Homo sapiens: one gene and its partners. The protein of the gene in region 1 interacts with the protein of each later gene in a pairwise test. Each region holds a gene or a part of one and is shown in the gene's direction. Other genes may lie near its edges.

Region 1 (7,298 bases):
CCTGTAAGGTACTTGGCTGAAGTGCCAGTTGAGATGGGTGTGAAGTGAGTCTATGAGTCCTTGGGGGAGAAAGCATTGCCTTTGAGTGGGCTATGTCCCCTACCCTTCCCCTCCTTCCCCCATCCTGCAAAAGCAATGAGCTTTTGCTGGCATTTTTCTCATCTTTTTGTAAACGTTGAACGATGGAGCCAGAGGTCTGTCTTCAAATACTGCCTAGAAATTAAAGTTTTTAAACAAATTAAATATTTAAGTGAATTGAAATGTAAAATGCACTCCCCTATTCCCCTCCCCAAAGCCCCTCACTGAGCTCCAAACAGGAGTTGTTCCTGACCCCACTGGCACTGAGGTGTTTGCCAGGGCTCCTGCAGTGGGAGATGGAGATTCAGGGTCTAGGGATTTAATTTCAGAAAAAAGAATTTTTTCAAAATAATTTCTCTAACCAATAAGAATTTCTAAGAAACAAATGTTTAGAATTATGTTTGTGGCCTTCTTCTTTTTTTTTTTTTTTGCCATGCAGTTCTTATTCTGGTATATTACACATAAAGCAAAATATATCCATTTTCAGTGTAGAGTTCAATGAGGCTGGGCAAGGTGGCTCATGCCTGTAATCCCAGCACTTTGGGAGGCCGAGGTGGGAGGATCACTTGAGCCCAGGAGTTTAAGAACAGCCTGGGCAACATAGTGAGACTCCATCTACACAGAAAATTTTAAAAATTAGCTGAGTGTGGTGGTGCATGCCTGTAATCCCAGCTACTTGGGAGGCCGAGGTGGGAGAATTACTTAAGCCCAGGAGGTCAAGGCGCAGTGAGCCATGACCGTGCCACTGCACTCCAGTCTGGGTGACAGAGCCAGACTCTGTCTCAAAAATAAAAAAAGATAATAATAAAAATAGAGTTCAATGAGTTCTGACAAATGCATACAGAACATTCCAATCACCTGCAAAAGTTCTTTAATGCACTTCTCAGTCATTCTCCCTCAAAACAACATCTAATGTGATTTCCTTCACTATAGATTAGTTTTGCCTGGTTTAGATTTCATATGGGTGGAATACAGTATTTCTCTTTTGTGTCTGGCTTTTTTCATTTTGCCCCATGTCTACGAGATTCATCTATGCTCTTCCTATATGTCAGTAATTTATTCCCTTTCATTGCTGAGTAGTATTCCATAATCCCATTGTTGTATTTTTTTGTCAGTTCTGTTTCTGGACACCTGGGCTGTTTCCAGTTTTTTGCTATTAAGAAAAAGCTAATCTGAACATTTGCATACAAGTTTTTGTGCAGACATATTGTAATAGTAGCATGTTGTAGCTGGCTCACCAGAGCGGATTTTGTGCATCTCTTTTAAATCTGGTTCAGCGACTGTCATATTGGTAGCCTGAAATAAGCCATGGGGACAGTACAAATTAGAGCTGTTTTCTTCCTGGAGCGTTGGTTGTCAAACATTTACCAGCACACCATTGGACATGTGTTTTCATTTCTCTAGAGTAAATACCTAGGAGTGAGATTGCTGGATTGATTGCATGGCAGGTCTATGTTTAATTTTATATGAAACTGCCAAACTGTTTCTAAAGTGCTTGTGCCACTTTACACTCCCAATAGCAATGTATGAAAGTTCCAATTGCTCTACATTATCATCAATACATAGTATTGTCAGTCTTTTTAATTTTATCCATTGGAGTTGGGCATGGTGGCTCATGCCTGTAATCCTAGAGTGTTGGGAGAACGAGGCCAGGAGCTCGACACCAGCCTGGGCAACATAGTGAGATCCTGTCTCTAAAAAAAAAAAAAAAATTTTTTTAGCCATTAAATGGTGAAGATCCGAATAGAAAAGTGGAGTTGGGGCCAGGTGTGGTGGCTCAAGCCTGTAATCCCAGCACTTTGGGAGGCCGAGGTGGGCAGATCACTTGAGGTCAGGAGTTTCAGAGCAGCCTGGCCAACATAGTGAAATCCCGTCTCTACTAAAAATATAAAAATTAGCCAGGCATGGTCGTGGGCGCCTGTAGTCCCAGCTACTCAGGAGGCTGAGGCAGGAGAATCACTTGAACCCAGGAGGCGGAGGTTGCAGTGAGCCAAGATCTTGCCACTGTACTCCAGCCTGGGTGACAGAGCAAGGCTCTGTCTCAAAAAAAAAAAAAAAAAAAAAAAAGAAAGAAAAGAAAAGAAAAGAAAAGGGGAGTTGGGAAATGGAAATTATATGGGAGGCCAGTAGGCAGAACTTCTGTCTTCCTTCTTATAGACAGAGAAAGCCATGTGATAAATACAGATTGAAATATGTTGAGGCCCCCCCTCACCTATGACCTTCCTCTGATCTTTCCCATTACATTGCCAAAGGATGCTAAATCTCCAAACAGGAGAATGCAGTCACTTGAAACACAACAGGCCATTCATGGTGTTGGGGAAATAATTAAAAAGAGAATCTCGTGCCAACCCAATGAATCCTCTCCACAAAGTAGACAAGAATGAAAAGTTTTTTTTTGTTTTTTGTTTTATTGAGACAGGGTCACTCTGTCACCCAGGCTGGAGTGCAAGTGGCAAGTGGCGTGATCTCAGCTCACTGCAATCTCTGTCTCCTGGGTTCAAGTGATTCTCCTGCCTCAGCATTCTAGGTAGCTGGGATTACAGGCGCGCGCCACCGCGCCCAGCTGACTTTTTTTTTTTGCATTTTTAGTAAAGACGGGGTTTTGCCATGTTGGCCAGGCTGGTCTCGAACTCCTGGCCTCAAGTGATCCGCCCGCCTTGGCCTCCCAAAGTGCTGGGATTACAGGCATCAGTCACCGCACCCGGCAGGAATGGAAAGTTTTATAACTGAATAAGCATTACACCAGACTGTGATGCACATCACAAACAATCTGCTAAAGAGGTTTCAAAGACAGAAAGAAATCTCATCCGTTTATGTAGCAGGCAGATACAGCCCATTACAAACATATTCTCAAACAATAACTTGTGCTCAAGAAACTTGACGGCACCATTTGGTACACATACTTCATCCCAAATTCACCTGGTAATTAGGGTGGCTATCTGTGTTAGTTAATTGCCTTTATCCAAAGGAAAACGAAAACTCATATCTCTATGACAAGCAGGTAATAACTTGAAGCCAGGCACGCAGATCAAATTCCCACGAAGACAGGGAAAGACAGGGGTGCTATTTTCATTGATGTTTACATTTCAAAGAGATGGCTACAAGGCTCTTAAGAAAAACATTCCGGGGATGTAAAACTGGCAAGAGATTTAGCTTTTAAAAGGACTTACATACATCTCAAAGGGACAGAGAAAATTTTACAGTTACAAGTTTTCTAAAGGAAATGCTCTAAGAGAGACGTCTTTCTCTTTTGACACCAGGGAAAATTCGATCTTTAAAAATTTGTGTTTACCCCACAATACCTCCACACATTGACTGGCATCGTGCTCCCTTCCAGGTCCGCACTTCCCTCTTCACCTGGCCACCTGTGACTAGTTTTTCATAGTCCTAATCAACCCCATTCCTAAAGGAAGCCTCCCAGACAGCAGGCCGCCCCTCCTAGGCCCAGTCCCCCAGCCCCCGCCACACCAGAGACCCGCTGTCCTCAAAGGCTATGAACTACAGTCTCCTAGAGCTGGTGAACATCGCCGATCATTGGTTCTGATTCCAACCCATTTCAAAGATGGTAAAAACTGAGACACGGGAAAATCATAAAAGGGTGCTTAGGGCACTGGCCCAAAAAGGGTACTTAAGGATTTCTCCGCCCAGATGCCAAAGCCCTAAGGTCAGCCCCAAATGACCTGTGTTCTGCTTTATACGTCTATGCCACTGTTGGGGTTAAAGCCCTAGGCACGCAGGTCTTGCCTCAACTGCGCCTGCGCGAGTCAGGACGAGCGCTTGCCCCAGATCTTGACGTTTCAGGCGGCCCCTCCTAATCCGGAACACGACTCACATTCCGTTGGTCTTGCCTTGACAGACGTGACCCTGACCCAATAAGGGTGGAAGGCTGAGTCCCGCAGAGCCAATAACGAGAGTCCGAGAGGCGACGGAGGCGGACTCTGTGAGGAAACAAGAAGAGAGGCCCAAGATGGAGACGGCGGCGGCTGTAGCGGCGTGACAGGTGAGGGCGGGCCCGGGAGGGCTCGGTTTCTGGAGCGGCTGCCGGGCACGGGCAGGGAGCCCGGACCGAAAGCTCAGCTCCAGGATGGCTGCGCCTGGGCCCCGGCGTTCCCTGCCCGGAACCGGAGGAGTGGTTTGACCCGGGGCGAGACCATCGTCGACAGCGGGGGTGGGGTGGGTAACAGGAATAGGCGGGCAAGGCTGCGGGTGATGGTTTCGCCCGCTGCTAGTGGTGGTGCGCCTGCGCAGAGCCGGAAGCCCTTTGGTAGGCGGGACCCGACCGAGTGGTGCCGGGATTCCGTCTTAACCCCCGCTAAGGTGTCCAATGACCTTTCCTTACCAACTGCGGGGAGTGTGTGGAAACGCGGTTCACTCCCCGGTTTCCTTATTCTGGATCAGTGTCTGACCGCCCCCGCCGGGAGAATGTCAGGATTCTCGCCTCTGTAACCGCCTTCCATGATCCCTCATTCAGTTTAGACCAGTAATATGCCTGTGACCCCTCACAGGTTGTCAAGGAGAATTTTGGAGCTCCCTCTTTACCTCCATTTTTCTCCCCGCAACACCATACCTTCCTTCTCCTTTTGCTATGACAATGTCTGGTGGTCCACCATTACCTCCCCAGTTCGGCTCAATGTCTGGTCATTTCCATTTCCACCCTTCTCCCCATTACAGTCCCTAGTGACGCCTGTTACATCTCCCTTCCGCATAGTATGTAGTGACCCCCCCCCCCCATGAATTCCTCATCATAGAGGCTTGGGACTTCCATTAGCCACCTAACAACGGTGTCTGTGGTCCTAACATCAACATTACACCCCAGGGCTTAGGGATGTCCACAGTGCCCTTTAAGGACATGTTTGGTGCAACCTCCATCTTCCCCAAACTAAGGGCAGTATCTGATAATCCTCTCTTTCCCATCACCGTGCCTGCGACTCCTCCCTCACCACAGTAACTGGCATTTCCCCCGTTCTCTGTTAAAAAACCAGGACACTTTGGGAGGCTGAGGCGGGTGGATCATCTGAGGTCAGGAGTTCGAGACCAGCCTGGCCAACATGGTGAAACCCCGTCTCTACTAAAAATACAAAAAATTAGCCGGGCGTGGTGGCACACGCCTGTAGTTCCAGCTACTCAGGAGGCTGAGGCGGGAGAATGGCTTCAACTTGGGAGGTGGAGGTTGCAGTGAGCTGAGACCATGCCATTGCACTCCAGCCTGGGCAACAAGAGCGAAACTCTGTCAGAAAAAAAAAAAAACAGAAAAAAAAAAAAAAAAAACCCAGGACATTCTGTTCGTGCTTCTTATGTACCTGACGGCTCAGTGCAGTGTGTACTGACTTCCCCATTGGTCCCCAGCACAGAGTCTTGTGTGCTCCTCTACCCTCCAAGACAGTATGCTCTGTCCCCCTTCCCTGTTCTCTCCCCCGCAACCCTGTGCAGTGAAGCTGAGACCTTGGCACTCAAGAGTGAGACAAGCAACAGGAGGGCCTGAGCAGAGAAGGAACTGGAAGGACTTCAGATGTGAGCAGGATCTCTTGGACTGTCGTGTGAAAATTAGGCTGCAGGGGGCGACAGGAGCCTGGACTTTGAATTTTATTTTGTCCCCTGCCACTTTGCTTCTAGACTATCATTATTGGACCTCTGAATTCTTGTCTGCCTTCTTGTAGGAGCCCCATGGCACCTGCCCAGCCCCACCTCAGCCCATCTTGACAAAATCTAAGGCTCCATGGAGCCACCACGGGGCCCCCCTGCCAATGGGGCCGAGCCATCCCGGGCAGTGGGCACCGTCAAAGTATACCTGCCCAACAAGCAACGCACGGTGGTGAGTCATGGAAGCGAAATGGCAGGGGCTGTGGATGGACCCAGTTGTAACTCTGGGATCAAAAGGGTGACAACGGTTGGGGGAGGCCTTTGCAGAAGGATGGGAACATCAGCTGCGCTTCTGTTGGGCATTGAGGACCCCTACATCTGCACATACACACAGGTGACTGTCCGGGATGGCATGAGTGTCTACGACTCTCTAGACAAGGCCCTGAAGGTGCGGGGTCTAAATCAGGACTGCTGTGTGGTCTACCGACTCATCAAGGGGTGAGTGTGGCAGCCCCACGCCCACCCACTGGGTGTCCCACCTCCCATCCCCTCCTCAGTCATTTGATTCCTTCTGTACTTTATCACAGAGTCTTCCATTAGTCTTCCCTTAGTCTTTAGTCCCCCCTTATCTGCAGGGTACATGTTCCAAGACCCCCAGTGGATGCTTGAAACCATAGATAGTACCGAACCCAATTGCTATCAGTCGGAACATGTTTCTATTCTTGTCTTCTACCCATAAATGTAATGCCTTTTCCGTCTTAACTAAGCACGTATCATGCACTCCGGCCATCACTTTTGCAGTTTGAGGTATGACATCAAAACTAGCATGAATTTATTTTTCCTTCTTCACAATTCCAAAGATGGAAGATTCTTTCTTACAGTAGATCTCAGCAACCTCAGCATATGATTTTCTTTTAAGTCAAGAACTTTTACCTTTTTGCTTAAAGGAAGCACATTACAGCTTCTCTTTGGCATGTCCGAATTGCCACCAACACTACTCTTGTGCTTTTGGGCCATTATTAAGTAAAATGGCGGTCACTTGAAGACAGCCACTATGATATTGAGTCAGTTGTTTGATAACTGAGCAGGCTACTAAGTGATGGGCGGTAGCGTAGACAGTGTGGATCTGCTAGATAAAGAGGTGATTCACATCCTGGGTGGGATGGTGCAGGATTTCATCACGCTACTCAGAATGCACGTAATTTAAAACTTATGAATTGTTTATTTCTGCAATTTTCAATTTAATACTTTCCCACCCGGTTGACCACAGGTAACTGAAACCATGGAGAGTGAAACCACAGATAAGGGAGGACTACTGTAGTTCAAGTAATCTATGAGTTCATCCATCTTTTGTTTTGTTACTTCATTGGTTTATTGGCCTGTAAGGTCAGCAACTCATTCTCCCCTGGCCCCCAAGTCCTCACCCTGGTCCATCACTTCTGCCCAGATTTCATCTATTTTGTCCTTTCACGATGTCATGACTTCATCAGGTCTCTTCTTCCTCATTTTCCCCATTCTCTGTCTGCTGAGTTGGGTCTTGCTGACTTTATTTATTCCTCTCTCGTGGGTTTCCTTAATTTATGATGCAGTTCACACACTGCACTTTATTTGTTGTTTCAGTGCCTCCTCAGCCCCCTTTT
Region 2 (7,273 bases), on another chromosome or scaffold:
GAAGAGACCCCTGTATTGAACTGAATTCTACTTCCCTGTGACCTCTGCCCGTGGGTACCTCACCAAGCATAGCTGTTTCCTTTTCTAGAAGATAGCCCTTTGATCATTGGTACAGAGTCACCTTGTCACAACCAGACCTCAGTTTCTCCTGGTCATTCCTCTTCAACTGTGCTTCTGTTGGTGTCTCAGCATCGTGAGGACAGAAGCCCAAAACCTGACTCCCTTCCCCAGACCTGTACATTCGGGCAGCGCGTACATTCTGTCTCCCTCTCTCTCTGCGCCCAGAGCCTCAGCTCAGCTGCCTCCTTGGAGGCAGCTACCTACCTCTCCAGTCCTGTCCTGGGGCCATCGTGGGTGTGGGACAGGACCTGTGACTCTTTCCCTTTCTTGTCTAGTCCCCCGCCACACACTCACTCCCATGGTTTGTAGCCCAAGAGTCTCTGGTAGGGCTGCGATAAGGTTGTGTGGTCCTGGATGATTTTACTTAGAACCTGGGTTTCCCCTGGAGAAAGGCTGGCCAGGGTGGCATCTGAATGGGACTGCAGCCTGCTGACAGGAGGCCTGGCCACCTGTCCTGGGGAGCAGCACTGGGCTTTTTTTTTTTTTTAAGATAGGGTCTCACTCTGTGGCCCAGGCTGGGGTGCAGTGGCACTATCACGGCTCACTGCAGCCTTGAACTCCTGGGCTTAAGCGATCCTCCCACCTCAGCCTTCTGAGTAGCTGGGACCACAGGTGTGTGACTCCACGGGGCCTGAGCACCAGGCTGGATGCAGCTTTCTCTTGTAGCTTGACAGGAGCCAGGGAGGGGGATCCCACCTGGAGCTGGTATACCCAACACAGCTGTGGAAAAGTTGACCACAGGCGGCCCCTTCCGCCTGATTGGATTATTGTATGATCATTCATTAAACTGTTTCTCTGTTGTTTTTTTGAAACAGAGTCTCACTCTGTCGCCCAGGCTGGAGTGCAGGGGCGAGATACCGCTCACTGCAACCTCCACCTCCCGAGTTCAAGCAGTTCTCCTGCCTCTGCCTCAGTAGCTGGGACTACAGGCAGGCGCCGCCACACCTGGCTAATTTTTGTATTTTTAGTAGAGACAAGGTTTCACCATGTTGGCCAGGCTTGTCTCGGACTCCTGGCCTCAAGTGATCCGCCCACCTCGGTCTCCCAAAGTGCTAGGATTACAGATATGAGCCACTGTGTCCAGCCTGCTTTTTTTTTTTTTTTTTTGAGATGGAGTCTCATTCCATCACCCAGGCTGGAGTGCAGTGGCACAATCTTGGCTCACTGCAACCTCCGGCTCCTGGGTTCAAGTGATTCTCCTGCCTCAGCCTCCTGAGTAGCTGGCATTACAGGCACCCACCACCACGCCCAGCTAATTTTTGTATTTTTAGTAGAGACGGGGGTTTCACTATGTTGGTCAGGCTGGTCTGGAACTCCTGACCTCAAGTGATCCACCCACCTTGGCCTCCCAAAGTGCTGAGATTACAGGCAGGAGCCACTGCGCCCGGCCTTGTTTTGCTTTCACAAGGCTTTATCTTTTGAGCAGTTTTAGGTTTACAGAAAAATCCAACAGAATGTCCAAAGAGTTGCCATGCCCCTCCTCTCCCATCTGGCACACAGTTTTCTATTCTTCACGTCCTGCATTAGTGTGGAGCATCTGTCACAATTGACAGGATGTTGATACATTATTATTAATAAATGCATGGTTTACCTTCCGGTTCCCTCTTGGTGGTGTACATTCTCTGTGATTACAGTATCATAAGAGTAGTTTCACTGCCCTAACATTTTTCTGTGTTCCCCCCTACTCATCTCACCCTCTTCCTACCAAACCCCTGGCAACCACTGATCTTTTACTGTCCCCTTAGTTTTGCCTTTTCCAGAACGGTCTATAGTTGGAATCAGACAGTATGTAGCCTTTTCAGATTGGCTTCTTTCACTTAGTGCAATATACATTTAAGGTTCCTCTGTGTCTTTTCACAGCTTGAGAGCATATTTCTTGCTTGTTTTTTAAATTATTTTATTTTATTTTATTTGAGATGGAGTCTCGCTCTGTCACCCAGACTGGAGTGCTGTGGCATAATCTTGGCTCACTGCAGCCTCTTCCTCCTGGGTTCAAGCAATTCTTGTGCCTCAGCCTTCTGAGGAGCTGGGACTAAAGGCACACACCACCATGCGCAGCTAACTTTTGCATTTTTAGTAGAGATGAGGTTTCACCATTTTGGCCAGGCTGGTCTCGAACTCCTGACCTCAGGTGATCTGCCCGCCTCAGCCTCCCAAAGTACTGGGATTACAGGCGTGAACCACCGCGCCCAGCCTGTTTTTTAAATAGGGTGCTGTGTTGCCCAGGTTGGTCTTAAAACTCATGACCTCAAGCAATCCTCCCTCCTCAGCCTCCTAAAGTGGCTGAGAGCTCATTTTTTTTTCAGCACTGAATAATATTCTGTTGTCTGGATATACCACACTTTTATCACCTGCTGTTTCTTTGTTTTTTATGATTATTATAAAAGAGATAGCTAATCATCATTAAATGTATATCAACCGAAAAGAGAACATTTAAAAAAATCCCTGAGTCCCTCTGTGGGGCATTTCATTCTATGTTCTACTATGTTCTTTAAATTTTTTTTCTTGTACATTCTTTCTAGTCCAAATCATATTCTTCTGGAAACAGAAAAGGCTTTCTGTCCGGCTTGCTAGATAATGTCAAACAAGAATTAGCCAAAAACAAAGAAATGAAAGAAAGTATAAAAAAATTCCGTGACGAGGCCAGAAGGCTAGAAGAATCAGACGTGCTCCAGGAGGCCAGAAGGAAATACGTGAGTTTCTTTGCTGCTTTTTTTTCCCTCACCCAGGCTGGAGAGTAGTGGTGCGATCTCGGCTCACTGCAACCTCCACCTCCCAGGTTCAAGTGATTCCCCTGCCTCAGCCTCCTGAGTAGCTGGGCTTACAGGCGCGCACCACCACGCCCAGCTAATTTTTGTATTTTTAGTAGTGAAGAGGTTTCACCATGTTGGCCAGGCTGGTCTCGAACTCCTGACCTCAAGTGATCCGCCCGCCTCAGCCTTCCAAAGTGCTGGGATTACAGGCGTGAGCCACCGCGTTGGGCCCCTTTGCTTCTTACCTTTCTTGGTTGACATGTTTGTTTCCAGGGCCAGGGTTTCTCCAGGCCAGGGACAGCCAGAGGAGCTCAGGGCTGGACGGTTGGGGGCAGGGTGGCTCGTGAGGAAGTGAGGTCACTGCTCTGATGCACTAATGAGAGGGAGCCAGGGGACAGGTGCGGGTCTCCAGGCCTCTGGGTTCTGCCATGAGACCATGCAGCGTTCTGTGCAGCTTGAAGCGTGGTCCCCAGACCAGCAGCAGTGGCTCCTCCTGGGAGTGGATGAGCAGTGCAGAGGCTCACACCCTCCCAAACTGCCAGGCCAGCGCCCGCATCTTCACAGGCCCCCAGGCAACGCATGCACACCAGCTATGGGATGCAGCGCTCCTGAGAGCTCCCAGCTGTAGCCCTCTGAGTGGAGCCTGGTGGAAACTGGGTGATGGTGCTGGTATTTTATTTTATTTTATTTTATTTTATGAGATGGAGTCTTGCTCTGTCATCCAGGCTGGAGTGCAGTGGCGTGACCTTGGCTCACTGCAACCTCCAGCTCCTGATTCTCCTGCCTCAGCCTCCCGGATAGCTGGGATTACAGGCGCCCGCCACCACACCCAGCTGATTTGTTGTTGTTGTTGTTGTTGTTTTTTGAAGCAGAGTCTTACTCCATTGCCCAGGCTGGAGTGCAGTGGTACGATTTTGGCTCAACACAACCTCTGCCTCCTAGGCTCAAGCGATTCTCCTGCCTCAGCCTCCCGAGTAGCTGGGATTACAGACACACACCACTACTGCCCAGCTAATTTTTGTATTTTTAGTAAAGACAGGGTTTCACCATGTTGGCCAGGCTGGCCTTGAACTCCTGACCTCAAATGATCCACCTGCCTTGGCCTTCCAAAGTGCTGAGATTACAGGTGTGAGCCAGTGCGCCCAGCCCTATATATCTTTTTATAGAGACGGGGTTTCACCATGTTGGCCAGGCTGGTCTCAAACTCCTGGCCTCAAGTGATCTGCCCGTCTCAGCTTCCCAAAGTGCTGGGATTACAGGTGTGAGCCACTGCTCCCAGCCTGTCATTATTAATTGTCACTTCTCTTCTTGAGCAGCTGCCAAGCCCTGGCTTCTGGGAATGGCTCTGCATTCCTTTATTTGTAAGGGCCCTGCGAGGCAGTTACAGTGTCCCCATTTTACCAATGAGCAGCTGAGCCTCAGAGATGCAGGCACCTGCCACGGGTCCCTTGCATTTTGGTTTGGTTTGGTTTCATTTGTGTTTTTTTGTTTGTTCGTTTTTTGTTTTTCTCCTTTGAGATGGAGTCTTGCTCTGTCAGCCAGGCTGGAGTGCAATGGTGCGATCTCGGCTCACTGCAACCTCCGCCTCCCTGGGTTCAAGCGATTCTCCTGCCTCAGCCTTCCAAATAGCTGGAATTATAGGCGCCCACCACCACGCCAGGCTAATTTTTGTATTTTTAGTGGAGACGGGGTTTCATCACTTTGGCCAGGCTGGTGTTGAACTCCTGACCTCAGGTGATCCATCCGCCTTGGCCTCCCAGAGTGCTGGGATTACAGGCATGAGCCACCGTGCCCAGCCTAGTTTGGTTTTTTGAGACAGGGTCTTGCTCTGTCACCCTGGCTGGAGTGCAGTGGTGTGATCACAGCTCACTGCAGTTTTGACCTTCCCATGTTCAGGTGATTCTCCCACCTCAGCCTCCTGAGTAGCTGTGACTAAAGGCATGGGATACCACGCCTGGCTAATTTTTTTATATTTCTAGAGACAGGGTCTCGCCATGTTGCCTGTGCTGGTCTCGAACTCTCTGGGCTCAAGCGATCCTCCCATCTCAGCTTCCCAAAGAGCTGGGACTACAGCTCACATGCCCAGCCCCTCTTTATCATTAATGCAGGGGTCATCTGAAGACATAGCAGGCTGAGTTTGGAGTGGGATGGATGGAGCGGGAGACATAAGACCAAGCTGTGGTGGCTGGAGGCTGGATGAGGGGCACAGTGATGACAGGCAAGGCCACCTCCTACCACCCGGTGAAAGGTGAAGGCTGGGCCTCCTGTTCTCAGGAGGTAGCTGCCAAGCGGGGACCCGAGTCTGCCGGCCTTCTGAGCAAGGAGCTCACCGCTGCTGAGACCCTCAATCCAAGCCATGTGGGCAGCCGGGGGCCCTGGAGGCAGCACATGCTGGCAGGTGCGGGGAGGGAGGGGCTGCGGAGAAGATGCTTCTTGGACCTTTGGCTGTAAGAGAAATGTCACTGCCGTGTCAGAACATACAGACTTAAAGACACAACGGTTGGCCAGGCACAGTGGCTCACACCTATAATCCCAGCACTTTGGGAGGCCGAGGCGGGTGGATCACTTGAGGTCAGAAGTTTGAGACCAGCCTGGCCAACGTGGTAAAACCCTGTCTCTACTGAAAATACAAAAATTAGCCAGGCATGGTGGTGGGCCCTGTAGTCCCAGCTACTCGGGAGGCTGGGGCAGGAAAATCGCTTGAATCTGGCAGGAGGAAGTTGCAGTGAGCCGAGAGCGTGCCACTGTACTCCAGCCTCGGCAACGGAGACATTGTCTCAAAAAAAAAAAAAAAAAAAAGGACACAGCGCTCTTTACCTAGAAAACCATCGAGTCAGAAACCGTGCGGACGAGCGAGGTGCTACGGAAGAAGCTTGGGGAGCTGACGGGCACCGTGAAGGAGGTAACAGTTCCACGCCCGCCTGGAGCCGCTGGGGCCATCAAAGTCCCCTGGCCGCTGGAGGCTGGAGGAAGAGTCGGCTCCTGGGTGGGGGTGGCTTGGCAGCAGTGGGTGGCATGGGGCGTGCTGCCACCCTCGGGAAGGTTTCAGGAGTTCCCGGCACATGCAGGGTGAGGTCAGACTGGCAACCTTGCATGACCGTTGACCCAGGGAGTCGGCAGCAGTAAGTGCTGCTAGCCAGGACTCGAGGAGAACATGAAAATGTTTTTCCTGCCTAAAAATAGGAGGAGAGGGGCCGCTTCCACCCCCTCCCGAGGGTAGAGGCGGGAGGCAGGATTCCTGGGGTGCTGCGGCTCTCCTCGGTTGTCTGTTCTGTCCAGCTTTGCGCAGCATGGGGCGCCCTCACCGCCGTTCTTTCCCCGGGGTCCCCTCCTTGGGAATCCTTGCTGCCAGGCAGTTCCCGGGTCTCCAGAGGACTCCTGCCCATTTTGGAAAGGGGCCAGCAGACCCAGCGTCTCACCCAGAGCCCAGGGCCAGCATCCCGGAAGCCGTGGCGGTGTGCTCATGGCTCTGGGGGTGCCGGTGTGCTCATGGCTCTGGGGGTGCCGGTGTGCTCGTGGCTCTGGGGGTGGCGGTGTGCTCGTGGCTCTGGGGGTGCCGTTGTGCTCATGGCTCTGGGGGTGCCGCGTACCACAGGAGCACAGAAGGCCTCTGCCGGCCTCGGGGAACCAGATCCGCCCTTCTCTCCGGCAGGAATTCATTCCTCCTGCCCCGCCCCCCGGCCGCCAGGGCCGGTGCCAACGCCCCCTCTCTGTGTCTGTCTCAGTAGAGCCTTCACGAAGTCAGTAAAAGTGATCTCGGCCGGAAAATCAAGGAGGGCGTGGAGGAAGCAGCCAAGACGGCCAAGCAGTCGGCCGAGTCGGTATCCAAAGGCGGGGAGAAGCTGGGCAGGACAGCGGCCTTCAGAGCCCTCTCCCAGGTGAGCCCAGTCCTGGGCTAGGGCATGCAGCCTGGGGCGGCCGAACCCAGACACCCACCCCAGCCCCGCTGTGCCTCCCTCGCAGGGGGTGGAGTCCGTGAAGAAGGAAATTGACGACAGCGTCCTGGGACAGACCGGGCCCTACCGGAGGCCCCAGCGACTCCGGAAGAGAACGGAGTTTGCGGGAGATAAGTTCAAGGAGGAGAAAGTGTTTGAGCCAAACGAGTAGGTACCAGCCCGTGGCCCTCGCTGCCCCCATTTTGGGCAGCTTTCACTGCTGTCCATTTCGGGAGCCCACCAATGGTTCCCTCCTGAGTCCGTTTCTTGAGTTTGCCTTCTGCCCAAGGTTCCCGGCTCCCTCGAATTTGAGGGTGAGAGGTGAGGGCGGGGTCCTCAGAGCCCCTAGGTTTGAGGTCTCAGCTGCCTGCTGTCCTGTACTGCCCCCTGCCTGCAGCCGCAGGAGGGCACAGGGTGGCCCTGGCGCCGCCGCTCACCCCAGGGCCCACCCTCTTCCCCAGGGAG
Region 3 (7,327 bases), on another chromosome or scaffold:
TCAGATTCTAAGTCCGTGTCCTCAGAGGTTCTCATTTAGCAGGTCTGGGGAGGAGCCCAGTTTCTTCATTTTAAAAGACACTACAGGCTGCCTTTTATGTTTGAATAGGAAAAAAATAAATAAATAAAATACACTACAGGGGATTTGGAAGCACATCCTTCGTGGAGAACATTGTCATAGTAGGATTTGCAAGCTCTTAAAGCCCACTAAAGCCAGGCAGGTAACAAATGGGTGGTGTGTGATAGAAGAGTGCTGGTGACCCTGATGAACAGGAGGATCTTAAGTTTTCTAAAACGCAGTCAGTATTTAGCTTTAGCTAGTTGTTGCCAGATAACGCCAGTCCAGTGTTGCTAGATATTCCACTTAATTTTTCCAAGAAGAGTTAGAAATACTGATTTATTTGTGACATACCCTATTTTTAAATATCGGCAACCAATTCAAAATTTACACAAAAAATTTGAATTGTAGGCCAAAACATATGCGCTGGCTAGATCTGGCTCTGAATCTGCCTGTTGAAATCTCTTGACAACACTTTAGCCAAACAAAAGCTTGATTTAAGTCAAAATGATGCAGTCAACAGCTCTCTTGACTGGCAGCATCACACTGCTTCTGCGATGTGAGGCTCTCCGGGGTTCTGGATAACACCCAGCTTGGCATGGAGCAAAGTGCTCTGAGCAGGGGAGTCAGGAGACCTGTTTCCTAATCCCTGCTAACAACTTGCTAGGTGACATTGGGAAAGAAATTCTCTCCCTTGTCACAGGATTTCTTTCTATAAAGTAAGGGGGATGATCTCTATTGTTCTTTCCAAGGTTCTAGATCATTCTTTTTCATGAAAATGTATGTACTTATTATCTGTCAGCTACTTGAAAAGGAAACTTTTCAGATTAAGTTGAAAATTCACCTTTAATTGGCTTGAGTGACAACTAGTTCTTCCTCTCCCATATTCTCCTGTGTCTTCAGTGATTTGTGTTTGCATGGAAGTTTCTTTCTGCTGTATGCTTTTGGGGGTATTTTCTAAGGGAAAGAGCTCATTTTGGCATAGAAAGTCTGGGCGGGGTTGAGCATATGGACTTCTCATTTGCTGAATACTACGTTTGAGTCAAATAAAAAAAATAAAGGAATAGAGTTAATATAGGGAACATTCTGAAGTATAAAGCCACTTCCTTGAACTTCACAGTTCAAATGAAACCTTGCAATTGAATCTTTTTTCCTTGTAGCTTCACTGAGACATAATACAGACACAATAAAATTCACCCATATAAAGCATACAATCCAATGTTTTTAGTATATTTACAGAGTTGTGCAATCAACACCACTATCTAATTTCAAAACATTTTCAACTCCTCAAAAAGAAACTCAATACCTACTATTGGTTGCTGTAATCCTGCAACCACAAATCTGCTTCCTGTATCTATAGATTTGCCTATTCTGGACCTTTTATATAAATGGAATTATATAATATGTGGTCTTTTGTGTCTGTCTTCTTTCATTTAGCATAATGTTTTCAAGGTTTATCCATGCTGTAGCATGTATCAGGACTTCATTCCTTTTTATTGCCAAATAATATTCTATTGCGTGGCTATACGACATTTTTTTGTTTATCCACTCATCAGCTGAGGGACAACTGAGTTGTTTCCACTTTTTGGCTATTATATATAACATTCACAAACAAGTTTTCATGTGAATATATGTCTTCATTTCTCTCAGGTACAGATAAGTAGGGGTGTAATTGTCAGGTTGTTGGTAACTCTACATTTAATCTTTTGAGGAACTGACACATACAGTTTTCCAAAGCAGTGGCATCATTTAACACACCTACCAGCAGTGTATGAGGGCTCCAGTTTCTTCACATCTTTGTCAACACTTACCTGTCTTTTTAATTTTAGTCATCCTCGTGTGTGTGAAGCAGTATTTCGATGTACTTTTTTTTGAGACAGGGTCTCGCTCTGTTGCCCAGGCTGGAGTGCGGTGGCCCCGAGCTCGGCTCACTGAAACCTCCGCCTCCCAGGTTCCAGCGATCCTCCTGCCTTGGCCTCCCAAAGTGCAGGGAATACAGACATGAGCCACAACAATTTTGTTTTGCTTATGATTTTGTGGGTCAAGTATTCAATAAGGGTCGGGAGTGATGGCTCATGCCTGTAATCCCAGTACATTTTTTTTTTTTGAGACGGCTCTGTCGCCCAGGCGGGAGTGCAGTGGTGTGATCTCGTGATCTCACGATCTTGGCTCACTGTAACTTCCGCTTCCAGCGTTCAAGCAATTCTCCCACCTCAGCCTCCGGAGTGGCTGGGACTATAGGCGTGTACCACGCCCAGCTAATTTTTGTAATTTTTTGTAGAGACGGGTTTTGGCATGTTGGCCAGGCTGGTCTGGAACTCCTGGGCTCAAGCGAGCAATCCGCCTCCCTCGGCCTCCCGAAGTGTTGGGATTACAGGCGTGAGCCACTACAATTTTATTTTGCTCATGATTTTGTGGGTCAAATATTCAAGAAGGGCCGGGAGTGATGGTTCATGCCTGTAATCCCAGCACTTTTTTTTTTTTTTTTTGAGCCCGCATTGTCGCCCAGGCGTGGGTGCAGTGGCGTGAACTTGGCTCACTGTCACTTCCGCGTCCCAGGCTCAAGTGATCCTCCCACCTCAGCCTCCGGAGTAGCGGAGAGTACAAGTGCACGCCACCACTCCGGACTAATTTTTGTATTTTTAGTAGAGATGCGTTTAGCCATGTTGGCCAGGTTGGTCTGGAACTCCTGGGCTCAAGCGATCCGCCCGCCTTGGCCTTCCAAAGTGCTGGGATTACAGGCATGAGCCATTGCGCCCAGCCATCCCAGCACTTTGGGAGTTCGAGACTAGCCTGGGTAACATAGAGAGACCTTGTCTCTTAAAAAAAAAAAAATTACCTGATCTTGATGGCATGTGCCTGTAGTCCCAGCTGCTAGGGAGGCTGAGGTGGAAGGATCACTTGAGTCCAGAAGTTGGAGGTTGCAGTGGGCCATGATTGTGCCACTACACTTCAGCCTGGGTGACAGAGGGATCTTGTCTCAAAAAAGAAAAAAAAAAGATTTTTAAAAAAGGAATTCAGGATGGGCTGGCCTGGATGGGTATTTTTGCTTGGGGTCTCTCACGCAGTTGCATTCAGATGCTAACAGGGGATGCCGTCATTGGAAGGCTCGATTAGGCTGAGTGTCCAAGATGTCTCACTTAGATGGCTGGCAGGTGATGCTGGTGATCTGGTGGGAGCTCAGTGGGACTTTTTTTTTTTTTTTTTAAATGGCATGTTGCTCCTGGCCATCAATCAGACTTCGACTGGCATGCCTACATGTAGCCTCTTTAGCATGGCAGTCTTATGATAGTCAAACTTCTGACTTTGTTCCTCCCGGAGTGAGAATACCAAGAGAACAGCTGCATGGCCTCTTCTGATCTAGCCTGGGAAATTAGGCAGCATCTCTTCTGCTGCATTCTACTGGTTCCAAATGAGTTACCAAGTGAAGTCCAAGAACTTGCAGTCATGTTCCAAGATTGCTGTAAATGCTTCCTGTGTAGCAGCACTGTTTTATGTGCTCATTTAATTCTTATTAAAAACCCCATGAGGCCGGGTGCAGTGACTCACACCTGTAATTCCAGCACTTTGGGAGGCCGAGGCGGGAGGATTGCTTGAGGCCAGGAGTTCAACCCCTCGCACTCACACTCCTCATATCCAATTACTGCACATTTGTCACACATAAACATAGCCACTATGACACTGTACTGACACATACAAAATCTGTCACATTCCGTCTTGCCCATGCAAGCTCAATCACTGACTTATTCTCCATGCTCAGCCACTGTCCCATTCTTCACACTGTCACAACCACCAGCCCATCACACACTCAATTACTGTGACACAGCTCTAATCCTCAATCACTGTCACATACTGTTTTTCACACAAATATGGTCACCATCTGTACTCTTAAAGCAGGGTATGTACTCTCCTATAAAATTGAGTTAATATGCCAACAGCCCTATTTTTCGCACACGCCGTCACATATTGTATTTTTCATCCACACAATCCCTTACATAGACAATTAGGGTGACACACTCTTTCTGCCTTCGTCCCACTCCCAACTGACACCCACTCCCACACTCTCACGCACTCGCTCACTGGCTAGGGATTAGAGCGGTGTGTCCGTGGGGGTCTGAAGCCCGGGTTACCTCCCGAACCTCAGCCCCAAGCGGCGCGGCCCCGCCCCTCCCCGCCCCCTCATGCATATGCAGCACCTCAGCCTGGCAGCCCGGCCCCCAGACGGCCATTTGTGGCGGCGCTGGAGGCTGCGTTCGGCAGGCGCTGCGGAGACGCGTAGAGGAGCGCGCCCCCCGGCCGCTGCCGCCCCTGGCCCGTGCCGTCACCCCGCTTCTCCGCGCCTCGGGCGGTACCCAGCCAGTCCCCAGCGCCGCGCTACCGCGCTGACCGGCCCTCCAGACGCCTCCCGGTACCCGGGACCCCAGCCCGGCCGCTCGCCCGCAGCCCGCCGGCCGCACACGTCCCCGGAGCCGGGCCTAGGGCGGGCGGCAGCGGCGGCTCGGCGCAGTCAGGCTGGGCTCTGTAGCGTCCCCATGGCCGCGGCCGGCTGGCGGGACGGCTCCGGCCAGGAGAAGTACCGGCTCGTGGTGGTCGGCGGGGGCGGCGTGGGCAAGTCGGCGCTCACCATCCAGTTCATCCAGGTACCTGGAGCGGGCCTGCCCGGGGCGCCGGAGCGGCGGCGGGCGGGGGCTGGCGCTACCTGTGGCGGGGCGGCCGCCGCGACCTCGCCCCAGAGGCGCCTCGCGGGCCCGGGCCGGGGCCAGGGGGCGGGAGGGCGCGGGGCCGACTACGCTCCTGCCCTGCGGCCGCAGCGTCGCGCTCCTGCCTCCTCCCGGGCGCGGCGTCGCGGGAGTAGGGCTTCTCAGGAATGTGGTCGGGAGGGCGGAGCTGGAAGGGTGGGAAGCACCGATCCACCTTATTGCTCTGGCCGAGGCCAGAGACCTCCGGGAGAGGCTGGGCCACCGAGCCGGGCTTTACTGCTCCGAGGGTCCGGGCGTGGGGCTGGAGCTGGAGCCCCGCGCGCTGCTTTTCCAGCCGCCTGCGGCCGCGCCTTCACCGTCGGGGCGATAGCGGTGGCAACTTGGCCGCGGCTCCGCGTGGTCTCCGGGCTTCCCCGCGCCGCCTGAGCCGGAGCTGCCCGCTTCAAGTACTGTGTATTTCTTTGTGTGTGTGTTACGCTCTTTTTATAAGTACTCTCTTAGGTAATATGTCCGGGTGGGAGTGTGTGATAATGCCCCGGGGAAATGGTGGCTTCTAGGAAGTTAAAAATGTTCTCTGATGGGGTGAGACCATTTCCTAGGAATTCCTGATGCCGTCCTGCTTCTCGCCGTGCCTAGGTGAAGTTTGGGATGGGCCGGGCTAGGATATGACCGAGTCGTGCGTTCTGTTTTCTAACCACCCTCTCCCCTACCCCCAGCCCTCTCTGGTTGCTAGAGACGGTAAGTCAGGGGTTTGTGGTAAAGAAAAGGGAGGTGGTATTCTTCCTTCTTAGAATTTGCTCTTGGGGAGAGGTTTGAGTAGTCTTTTTTGGGATTTTTAAAACACAAAGCCCCGATGTCTTTCTGCTTTTGTCAACCTAAAAGGTGTGGCATATGCTGGGAGAGAACGAAGGTACCCTGTTATAACAGGAAACAAGGATATTTTTCACAGTATCTAGAGTATGAACGGTGAAATATTTTTGTCTGGTTTCCTTTTCACCCATTTGTCATTAATTGGGATACCTGAATAGCTTATTTCACTTAGTGTTTATAGTGACATTAAAATATTGAGTACTGTAACAAATGTGATTGTCACCTTTCACATTGAGTAAATGAGCAATAATTGCTGCTATAATATTCCCTGGATTACTGCTGCTAAAACCTTTGAATCCAGGAAGAAAGGATGTTTTATGTAATGAGCATTTACAGTATGCTTATTAGTGGGTTAAAAAAATCACTGAGTAAGGGGTGAGATTGGTTTAAGTTTAGCAGGCTACAGAATCAGGGATGCTGTCAGGTTGCTATTTCCCTAGGGCGCAGAGAGATTGTACGTATCTAATGGCAAAGCAAAACAATTTATAGCTAACCCTTTGGGGACTAGTCTGATGGCTGAGGGAGGGTGGGGGTGAGGGGATAAGTGGAGGAGAAGTCTAGGAGTGGGAGAATAATCTTGGGTTACAATATTGGTAGTGTTATTTAAAAGATTTGAACCACAAATATTTACGTTTTTTTGAGGAAGGGGCCATCTGAATTATTTGAGCCCATGTTAATTAATTAAGGTGTTGGGCCTTTTTGTTTTGGGGAAGTAATGGTATTAAACCATTAAGAAAGCGGTAATTGGGCCTGGCGTCGTGGCTCACACCTGTAATCCCAGCACTTTGGGAGGCCGAGGCGGGTGAATCACGAGGTCAGGAGTTCCAGACCAGCCTGGCCAATATAGTGAAACCCCGTCTCTACTAAAAATACAAAAATTAGCCGGGCATGGTGGCGCGCGCCTGTAGTCCCAGCTACTCTGGAGGCTGAGGCAGTAGAATCGCTTGAACCCGGGAGGCGGAGATTGTAGTGAGCCGAGATTGTGCCTGGGCAACAGAGCGAGACTCTGCCTCAAAAAAAAAAAAAAAAAAGCATTAATTGCCGTTTTCCTAATAATTTATAGAATCATTTGTTGAAGAAATACCTCCACTGTGAATAGTATAGTACCTGGATGCTCTAGATGATATTAAAGAAGTAAAGGAAGCAGGTATGTATGAGGAAGACATATGTGTACATAAAGAGTATGAACCTTGAGTCTTACAGACTTGAGCATGTGTGTCTTTTAAAGCTCTGTCATTTATCGGCTGTGAGAACATGGCCAAAATACTCAGCCTCTCTGAGCCTCAGTTTTCTCGCCAGTAAAATGGGTCTGATTACACATTCTTTATAACTTTTATGACAAAGATGGTAGCATTGTATCCAGCATGTTGTATGTGCTCAGTAATGGTAGGTGTTATCAGTGTTTATGCCTACAGTTCTGTAACATGTTTAAATGCAAAGGGAATTCAGACTCAGAGAAGTCTGTGGAAAAAATTGATGAAAGCATTATGTAGGCTTGGTGGTGGGGAGAATGGAAATGTCATATGTGGGAGTCATATGCTAGTTTGGAGAGAGGAGGTGGCAAGTGGGGAAGTGGGATTGATAGTTGATTTGGGACCTGTGATCTGGTCTCTGCAAAAAGGAGCCTTTTTGGAGAGACAGGAACCCGACCACCTGGATGCAGTCTCAGCTCTACCACTTGCTGCATGTGTAATTTTAGG
Region 4 (7,273 bases), on another chromosome or scaffold:
ATATTGTGGTTTATTTTTATTTTTATTTTTTTTTGAGACATAGTCTTGCTCTGTTGCCTAGGCTGGAGTGCAGTGATGCAATTTTGGCTCACTGCAACCTCCACCTCCTGGGTTCAAGCATTTCTCGTGCCTCAGCCTCCCGAGTAGCTGGGAGTACAGGCGCACACCACCACACTCAGCTAATTTTTATAGTTTTAGTAGAGACAGGGTTTCACCATGTTGGTCAGGCTGGTCTCGAACTCCTGACTTCAGGTGGTCACTCGCCTCAGCCTCCCAAAGTGCTGGGATTACAGGCTTGAGCCACCACTCCTGGCCCAATATATTGTGTTTTTTTTAAGAGGCAGGCCCATGTATTGCACTAAAAATACTGTATTAAAGTAGGTAGCCTTGTAAGTTTACTGTTTTATACTGGATTCATTAGCCGGGAGTGGTGGCCTGTGCCTGTGGTCCCAGCTACTCAGGAGGCTGAGGTGGGAGGATCACTTGAGCCTGGAAGTTACAGGCTGCAGTGAGCTGTGATCCCGCCACTGCACTCTAGCCTGGATGACAGAGTGAGTCTCCATCTCTAAAAAAAAATAAGTTAAAATGAGAAAGTAAACTGGAGTCAATATATTCACTTAAACCAGGGTTTTTCACCCTTGGCCCTATTGACGCTTTGGACCAGATAATTATAGAGGACTGCCCTGTGCATTGAAGGATTTTTGCAGCATCCTGGGCATCTGCCTACTAGATGCCAGTATTGCGATAACCGGTTATATCTCCCGGCATTGCCAGATTTCCCAGGGGTAGGCAGATAGACAAAATTGTTCCTAGTTCTGAACCACTGTTTTATGGTATATGGATGTGTTTATATATTTATTGTGGTTTAGATTCAGCACACTGGATTAAAGTGGGCAGATCTGGAAGCCTAGTGATTCAAAGTGGGCAAAATACAGTGGCATAAATTAGGTGTGGTGGCTCACGCCTGTAATCCCAACACTTTGGGAGGCCAAGGCGGGAGGATCACTTGAGCCCAGGAGTTCAAGACCAGCCCGGTCAACAGAGCAAGACCCTGTCTCTATTAAAAAAGTATGTATACCCTGGTGTAATGTCAGCAGATTTACATGTATGTGGGTTTTGTTTTGTTTTTTTTTTTTCTGAGACGGAGTCTTACTCTGTTGCCACGCTGGAGTGCAGTGGTGCAATCTCGGCTCGCTGCAACCTCCACCTCCCGGGTTCAAGTGATTCTCTTGCCTCAGCCTCCCAGGTAGCTGGGACTACAGGCACATGCCACCACGCCCGGCTAATTTTTTTTTTTTTTTACTGTTTTAGTAGAGACAGAGTTTCACCATGTTGGCCAGGATGGTCTTGATCTGACCTCGTGATCCGTCTGCCTCGGCCTCCCAAAGTGCTGGGATTACAGGCGTGAGCCACCGTGCCCGGCCTTGTATGTGGGTTTTAAGTGGGCCAATGTAATAAGCATTCTGTTTCATACCTGGGGTAGTATGTGGATATAAGTATCAGCTTAAAATAGGGCAAGTAAATAAATCTGTGTTCCTATCTGGCGGTATGTCATTGCCTTCTATCTTTGGACCTAGAAATGAGTTGGTTCAAACCAGGCAGATATGCAGACCTGTTTGTATCTGGTAGATAAGAAACCCCTGGTTTGTCTGGGAGGTTGAACAGCGGCTTATTGTGGAATCTCTTTGTGCCTGGTGTTCTCCTAGATCCAATTCTGGTACAGCAGTTGCGCCGGACATACAAATATTTCAAAGATTATAGACAGGTGAGCAGAAGCCCTGGGCTCAGTCCCCATGTCTCCAGCCCTGGCCTCCTTGTCTGAGCGCCCCCATCCTGTCCCTCTCCCACAGATGATCATCGAGCCCACCAGCCCTTGCCTTCTCCCAGACCCTCTGCAGGAACCGTACTACCAGCCACCCTACACGCTCGTTTTGGAGCTCACCGGCGTCCTCTTGCATCCTGAGTGGTCGGTGTGTCCCGGGAAACCCAGTGGGTTGGGGATAGACCTGGGCAGTGGGGTTGTGATGAGGTGGACTTTCAGCCCTGGCTGTGCTATGTGATCTTGGGGAGGAGATGTCACCTGTCATTGCCTCGCTTTCTTCAGCTGGGAGAAGGCAGTCATGCTAACACCCACTCTGTAGGGTAGTGTAGGTGTGCCCAGGCACGCTATAAGTGCCACAAAGGAGCCAGACCCGCAGTCACAGCCTATGAACTTCTTGACCTCCAAGAGCCACAGAGACAGAGGGAGAGAACTCTGTTCTGGGAATCCCCCAGGCTGGATCTTTGTCCTCTTGGGGACTCTGAGGACCTCTGGGTCTTGGTGTTTCACTGTCCTCACTGTCTTCCCAGCTGGCCACTGGCTGGAGGTTTAAGAAGCGCCCAGGCATCGAGACCTTGTTCCAGCAGCTTGCCCCTTTATATGAAATTGTCATCTTTACGTCAGAGACTGGCATGGTGAGGCTCTGGGGCAGGGGAGGGAATATTGGTGTGGTGGGAGGCGTAGAGATCTGGAGGACCAGGGCTCAGCCTGACCTTTTCTCGCTCCCTTCCCACCCCCAGACTGCGTTTCCACTCATTGATAGTGTGGACCCCCATGGCTTCATCTCCTACCGCCTATTCCGGGACGCCACAAGATACATGGATGGACACCATGTAAAGGTGCCGTGGGTTCATGGGTGGGCCTCTGGGATTTGGCGGAGTTGGCACCACCTGAGGGAAGGAGGGCCCAGCTCTGACCCTAGCCTCACCTGGCTTATGGTTCTGCCCAGATTCGATTCCTGCTGGCAGGCACATGCCTGCCTCTAGCCTTGGCCAGACATCTGCACCCTTCTTTGTTCCCTGGAATCTGGGTGTGGGAGTGGGGGGAAATGGGGTCTCTCTAAAGAAGACAGTTGGGGGTTAGTGGTAAGGTCGTACGATTTAGAAGCTGGTTTTATCTTGCTGTGTCTGTAACTTAGTGTTTCTGGGAAGGTTTGCTTATAGTTGTACATATGAGACTGGTTGGGGTTTGTTTGACCCGGGCTCTGTTACTGTGGCCAGTGCTGTATTCAGGAGTCCGGATCTGCGAATGGGCCTCTGTGGGTCTGGCTCCAAGTGTCTGTGTGTCTGTTGGTTTCTGTCTGTGTCGTGTCGGGGTGGGGGTTCTGTGTTGCTCTTGGAAATTCCAAAATACGTGGGCTGTGATCGAGGGTCTTGAAGGGTCTGTGTCTGGGTGCCTGTCTGTGTGGTTCCCTGGGTGTGGCTGCAGATCTGTCTGCACCTGTTTACTTGAGTGAGAGGTTCTTAAACCTGCAACATACCACAGTCACCTGGGCAGGGGTTAAACACGAGAGTGGCCACCTCCCTCTCCAGGGAACTTCCTAATCACCTCTCTGTGTGCTAGGCCCTGGGTCTAGAAGTCTATGTGATTAGCTCCCCAATATCCTGGGGGTTGTTTTGTTTTTTGTTTCTGAGACAGGGTTTTGCTCTGTCACCCAGGCTGGAGTGCAGTGGTGTGATGAACATGGCTCACTGCAGTCTCAACCTTCTGGGCTCAAGCGATCTTCCCACCTCAGCCTCCTGAGTAGCTGGGCCTATAGGCACACACCACCATGCCTGGCTAATTTTTATTTTTATTTTTATTTATTTATTTTTTTTGTGAGACGGAGTCTCGCTCTGTTGCCTAGGCTGGAGTGCAGTGGCGCGATCTTGGTTCACTGCAACCTCCCCCTCCCAGGTTCAAGCGATTCTCTTTCCTCAGCCTCCCGAGTAGCTGGGACTACAAGCACACACCACCACACCCAGCTAATTTTTTGTATTTTTAGTAGAGACAGAGTTTCGCCATGTTGCCCAGGCTGGTTTTGAACTCCTGAGCTCAGGCAATCTGCCCACCTTGGCCTCCCAAAATTCTGGGAGTACGGTCGTGAGCCACCGCACCCGGCCATTTTTTGTATTTAGTAGATACGGGGTTTCACCATTTTAGCCAGGCTGGTCTTGAACTCCTGACCTCAGGTGATCCGCCCGCCTCGGCCTCCCAAAGTGCTGGGATTACAGGCGTGAGCCACCATGCCTGGCCCTCTGTGGGGGTCGATGCCATCATCCAAAGCCGGTCTTTGAGAGGCCCTGCCATTGTGATCCCAGTATGTGTGATGCTGTGTATGTATGTATGTTTTGTGTGTTTTGGGTCTTCTTGATGGGGGGAGAGTTGGGCACAGATGTTGACCTGATCTGTCACTCACTTCCAGGATATTTCATGTCTGAATCGGGACCCAGCTCGAGTAGTAGTTGTGGACTGCAAGAAGGAAGCCTTCCGCCTGCAGCCCTATAACGGCGTTGCCCTGCGGCCCTGGGACGGCAACTCTGATGACCGGGTCTTGTTGGATCTGTCTGCCTTCCTCAAGAGTAAGGCTGACCCCTGATCCCTTGGCCTCTGACCCCAGAGCCCCTGACTCTGAAGAGGAAGGATAAATGCATGATTCATGGCTGGGCGACTGAGGTGCAAGAGGTGCCTGAGCACCTTGGAGTCTTTAGGAGCTTCTTAGGATGTTCATGGAATGTTTGGGGGATACTTGGGGATGTTCAGGGGAGCCCTTTCAGAGCGTTCAGAAGCATTCCAGGTAGCACTGACTGCCCCCGTGCCCCAGTGCGGGACGTTCCCCTCATGGGCCCTGCCTCCCTCTGGCCTTTAGAAGCCTGGCTGACCACCCCCTGTTGTGCCCACAGCCATTGCACTGAATGGTGTGGAGGACGTGCGAACCGTGCTGGAGCACTATGCCCTGGAGGATGACCCGCTGGCGGCTTTCAAACAGCGGCAAAGCCGGCTAGAGCAGGTTGGTGCTCAGATGCCCAGAGTGGAGGATCGGCTCTGAGGCTCCTGAAGGAGGAGCCTGGGGCAGTCCATCTCCACACTCTTGGTTTGGCTGTGTGACCCTGAGCAGATACCTCCTCTCTGCCTCAGTCTCTGTAACCAGGGGGATATAACACAGCCTGTCCTGTAGGGCTGCCAGAATGAGGGGATGCATTGATTCTGCAGCCTGCTCTGAGAACAGGAAACAGGAGAGGATTTGAGATTAGGCTGGGAGAGGGGTTGCCCTTGATGGTCTTGAGTAGGTCTGGGGGCACCTTGTGGAGGTGGATTGTGGGTTTTAGATCAGGCCTGGAAAGAGGCTCCCTGGGCACGTGGCCCAAGGCTGTGGGGAGAGATGTGATAGTCTTGGTGGGACCCTGGTAATTTGGAAGTGGGACTGAGAGTATGGATTGCGTCTGGGTAAGATTCCCAGGGGTCTAGGCTGAGGTTCACCAGATTCTAGGTTAGGTTCCTAGAGTTGGGAGCCCCTGAGTGCCCAGAGAAGTCCCTAGAGATTTGGGCCTGGGGACCCCCCAGGGAACCCCCCACCCCTGCATCCAGAGAGGGGTCATGGGGCTCAGAGGGCCCAGGGGCAGGATGATGCAGTCTGGTGAGGAGGGCCATGGGGTTTGGACCTGGGATCTCACCAGCATTCACCTTGGGGTAACAGGGTCTGCGATAGGATCTCAGGCTCAGGGGAGGGGTCCCTGGGATCTGGGGAAGGAGATTATGACAGTCTGGGGCCTGAGAACCTACTGCAGTTCAGGCCTGAATACCTCGAGTGCCTAGTATTGGAGTCTGTCGTCCCCCAAACATTGAAGCCTAGGCTCCTGCGGCTCAGAGCTGGCTCTTCCTAGTGTCTGGGGTGGGGGGACTGGGGTCTAGGGTCCCTTGTGTCTGGGCTGGGGGCCCCAGGGTTTGGGGAAAGGGGTCTGGACTTGGCAGAAGTCAGAAGGAAAGGTGGTCCCTGGGCTGAGGCCTGGGGACCTGGGCATCTGGGAGGAGGCTCTGTCCACCTTGCGCTGACCCTCTCCTCCAACTGTCCCCCTACCCCAGGAGGAGCAGCAGCGCCTGGCCGAGCTCTCCAAGTCCAACAAGCAGAACCTCTTCCTTGGCTCCCTCACCAGCCGCTTGTGGCCTCGCTCCAAACAGCCCTGAACTCTGGGCCTCCTCAAACTCAGTGCCTGGGTCCAGGGCCCCAGTGCTTCCAGACCAAGACTTGGGCCACCACTTGTCCAATAAAGTACATCCCAGACGCCACACCTGCTGTGTCCCGAGAGTCTCCAGATGGGGGCATCAGGGTGAGGTCCGGGACTCTTGGGTCATCGTCCCACAGTGGCTGATCGGCTGCCAAGCACAGTGGGGGTGCTTTGTTGGATCAGAGCAGATTTTTCACCCTGGTCTCGGAATCTAAAAACCCTCGCTGTGTCTTCCTGTGTGTTGCGTGATCTGTGAAAAATACATCTCCCTCTGACCACAGACTCCTCATCTGTGGAGAAGGGAAGAGAGGATGGCACTTGGCTTTAAAGACAGGTAGCTGCCAGGCTACTGTGGAGAGAATGTGTTATGGGCCTAGTGGGCCTCTGGTGGACCAGAGATTACCCCTCTCAACAGGCCAGCTGCTGGTTGGCTCCAGCCAGTGTGGCCCTGGGGTAAAGGGGGCCTGGAGTTGCTTGACACGCCAGTTGTTCAAAAGAAGCAAGAACTTGGGAATATTTTTTTTTTTTTTTTGAGACAGGGTCTCACTGTTGCCCAGGCTGGAGTGCATTGATGTGATCTTAGCTTACAACAGCCTTGACCTCCCGGCTCAAGTGATCTCCAAGTGACCCTCCTGCCTCAGCCTCCTGAGTACCCTCCTGGGGACTACAGGTGCGTGCTACCATACCCAGCTAATTTAAACAAATTTTTTTTTTGTAGAGATGGGGTCTTGGTGCCCAAGCTGGTCTCAAACTCCTAGTCTTAAGCAATCTTCCTGCTTTGGCCTCCCAAAGCGCTAGGATTCCAGGTGTGAGCTACTGTGCCCAGCTAAAATAGGGATTTTTATATTAAATCTCCCTATTTTAAAATGTTGGCTCCTAGCGGGGCGCAGTGGCTCACGCCTGTAATCCCAGCACTTTGGGAGGCTGAGGTGGGTGGATCACCTGAGGTCAGGAGTTCAAGACCAGCCTCAACATGGAGAAACCCCATCTCTACTAAAAATACAAAATTAGCTGGGCGTGGTGGAGCATGCCTGTGATCCCAGCTACTCAGGAGGCTGAGGCAGGAGAATTGCTTGAACCTGGGAGGCGGAGGTTGTGGTGAGCCGAGATCGCACCATTGCACTCCAGCCTGGGCAACAGCAGCGAAACTCCATCTCAAAAAATAAAATAAAATAAAAATAAAATGTTGGCTTCTAACTAAAACAGGCAGATATGTAGCAGTGTTCTCCACTGGAACTTTCTGTGATGT

The links.
Region 2: the proteins of ARAF (region 1) and TIMM44 interact in binary tests that used the Homo sapiens proteins (3 or more experiments, as listed by UniProt).
Region 3: the proteins of ARAF (region 1) and RRAS2 interact in binary tests that used the Homo sapiens proteins (3 or more experiments, as listed by UniProt).
Region 4: the proteins of ARAF (region 1) and TIMM50 interact in binary tests that used the Homo sapiens proteins (3 or more experiments, as listed by UniProt).

The regions. Positions count from the first base shown.
Region 1 is NC_000023.11:47,557,174-47,564,471, forward strand, and holds the start of ARAF (serine/threonine-protein kinase A-Raf), read left to right. Parts: upstream 1-4,031; 5' UTR 4,032-4,078; exon of another isoform or gene 4,079-4,266; intron 4,267-5,735; 5' UTR 5,736-5,794; coding exon 5,795-5,890; intron 5,891-6,052; coding exon 6,053-6,156; intron 6,157-7,298. UniProt on the Homo sapiens protein: Involved in the transduction of mitogenic signals from the cell membrane to the nucleus. May also regulate the TOR signaling cascade. Phosphorylates PFKFB2.
Region 2 is NC_000019.10:7,933,567-7,940,839, reverse strand, and holds part of TIMM44 (mitochondrial import inner membrane translocase subunit TIM44), read left to right. Parts: intron 1-2,642; coding exon 2,643-2,813; intron 2,814-5,694; coding exon 5,695-5,775; intron 5,776-6,601; coding exon 6,602-6,751; intron 6,752-6,836; coding exon 6,837-6,976; intron 6,977-7,269; coding exon 7,270-7,273. UniProt on the Homo sapiens protein: Essential component of the PAM complex, a complex required for the translocation of transit peptide-containing proteins from the inner membrane into the mitochondrial matrix in an ATP-dependent manner.
Region 3 is NC_000011.10:14,356,133-14,363,459, reverse strand, and holds the start of RRAS2 (ras-related protein R-Ras2), read left to right. Parts: upstream 1-4,276; 5' UTR 4,277-4,589; coding exon 4,590-4,697; intron 4,698-4,992; exon of another isoform or gene 4,993-5,222; intron 5,223-6,755; exon of another isoform or gene 6,756-6,774; intron 6,775-7,327. UniProt on the Homo sapiens protein: GTP-binding protein with GTPase activity, involved in the regulation of MAPK signaling pathway and thereby controlling multiple cellular processes. Regulates craniofacial development.
Region 4 is NC_000019.10:39,483,838-39,491,110, forward strand, and holds part of TIMM50 (mitochondrial import inner membrane translocase subunit TIM50), read left to right. Parts: exon of another isoform or gene 1-953; intron 954-1,409; exon of another isoform or gene 1,410-1,539; intron 1,540-1,706; coding exon 1,707-1,765; intron 1,766-1,850; coding exon 1,851-1,970; intron 1,971-2,349; coding exon 2,350-2,454; intron 2,455-2,559; coding exon 2,560-2,658; intron 2,659-4,223; coding exon 4,224-4,380; intron 4,381-4,701; coding exon 4,702-4,808; intron 4,809-5,881; coding exon 5,882-5,983; 3' UTR 5,984-7,273. UniProt on the Homo sapiens protein: Essential component of the TIM23 complex, a complex that mediates the translocation of transit peptide-containing proteins across the mitochondrial inner membrane. Has some phosphatase activity in vitro; however such activity may not be relevant in vivo.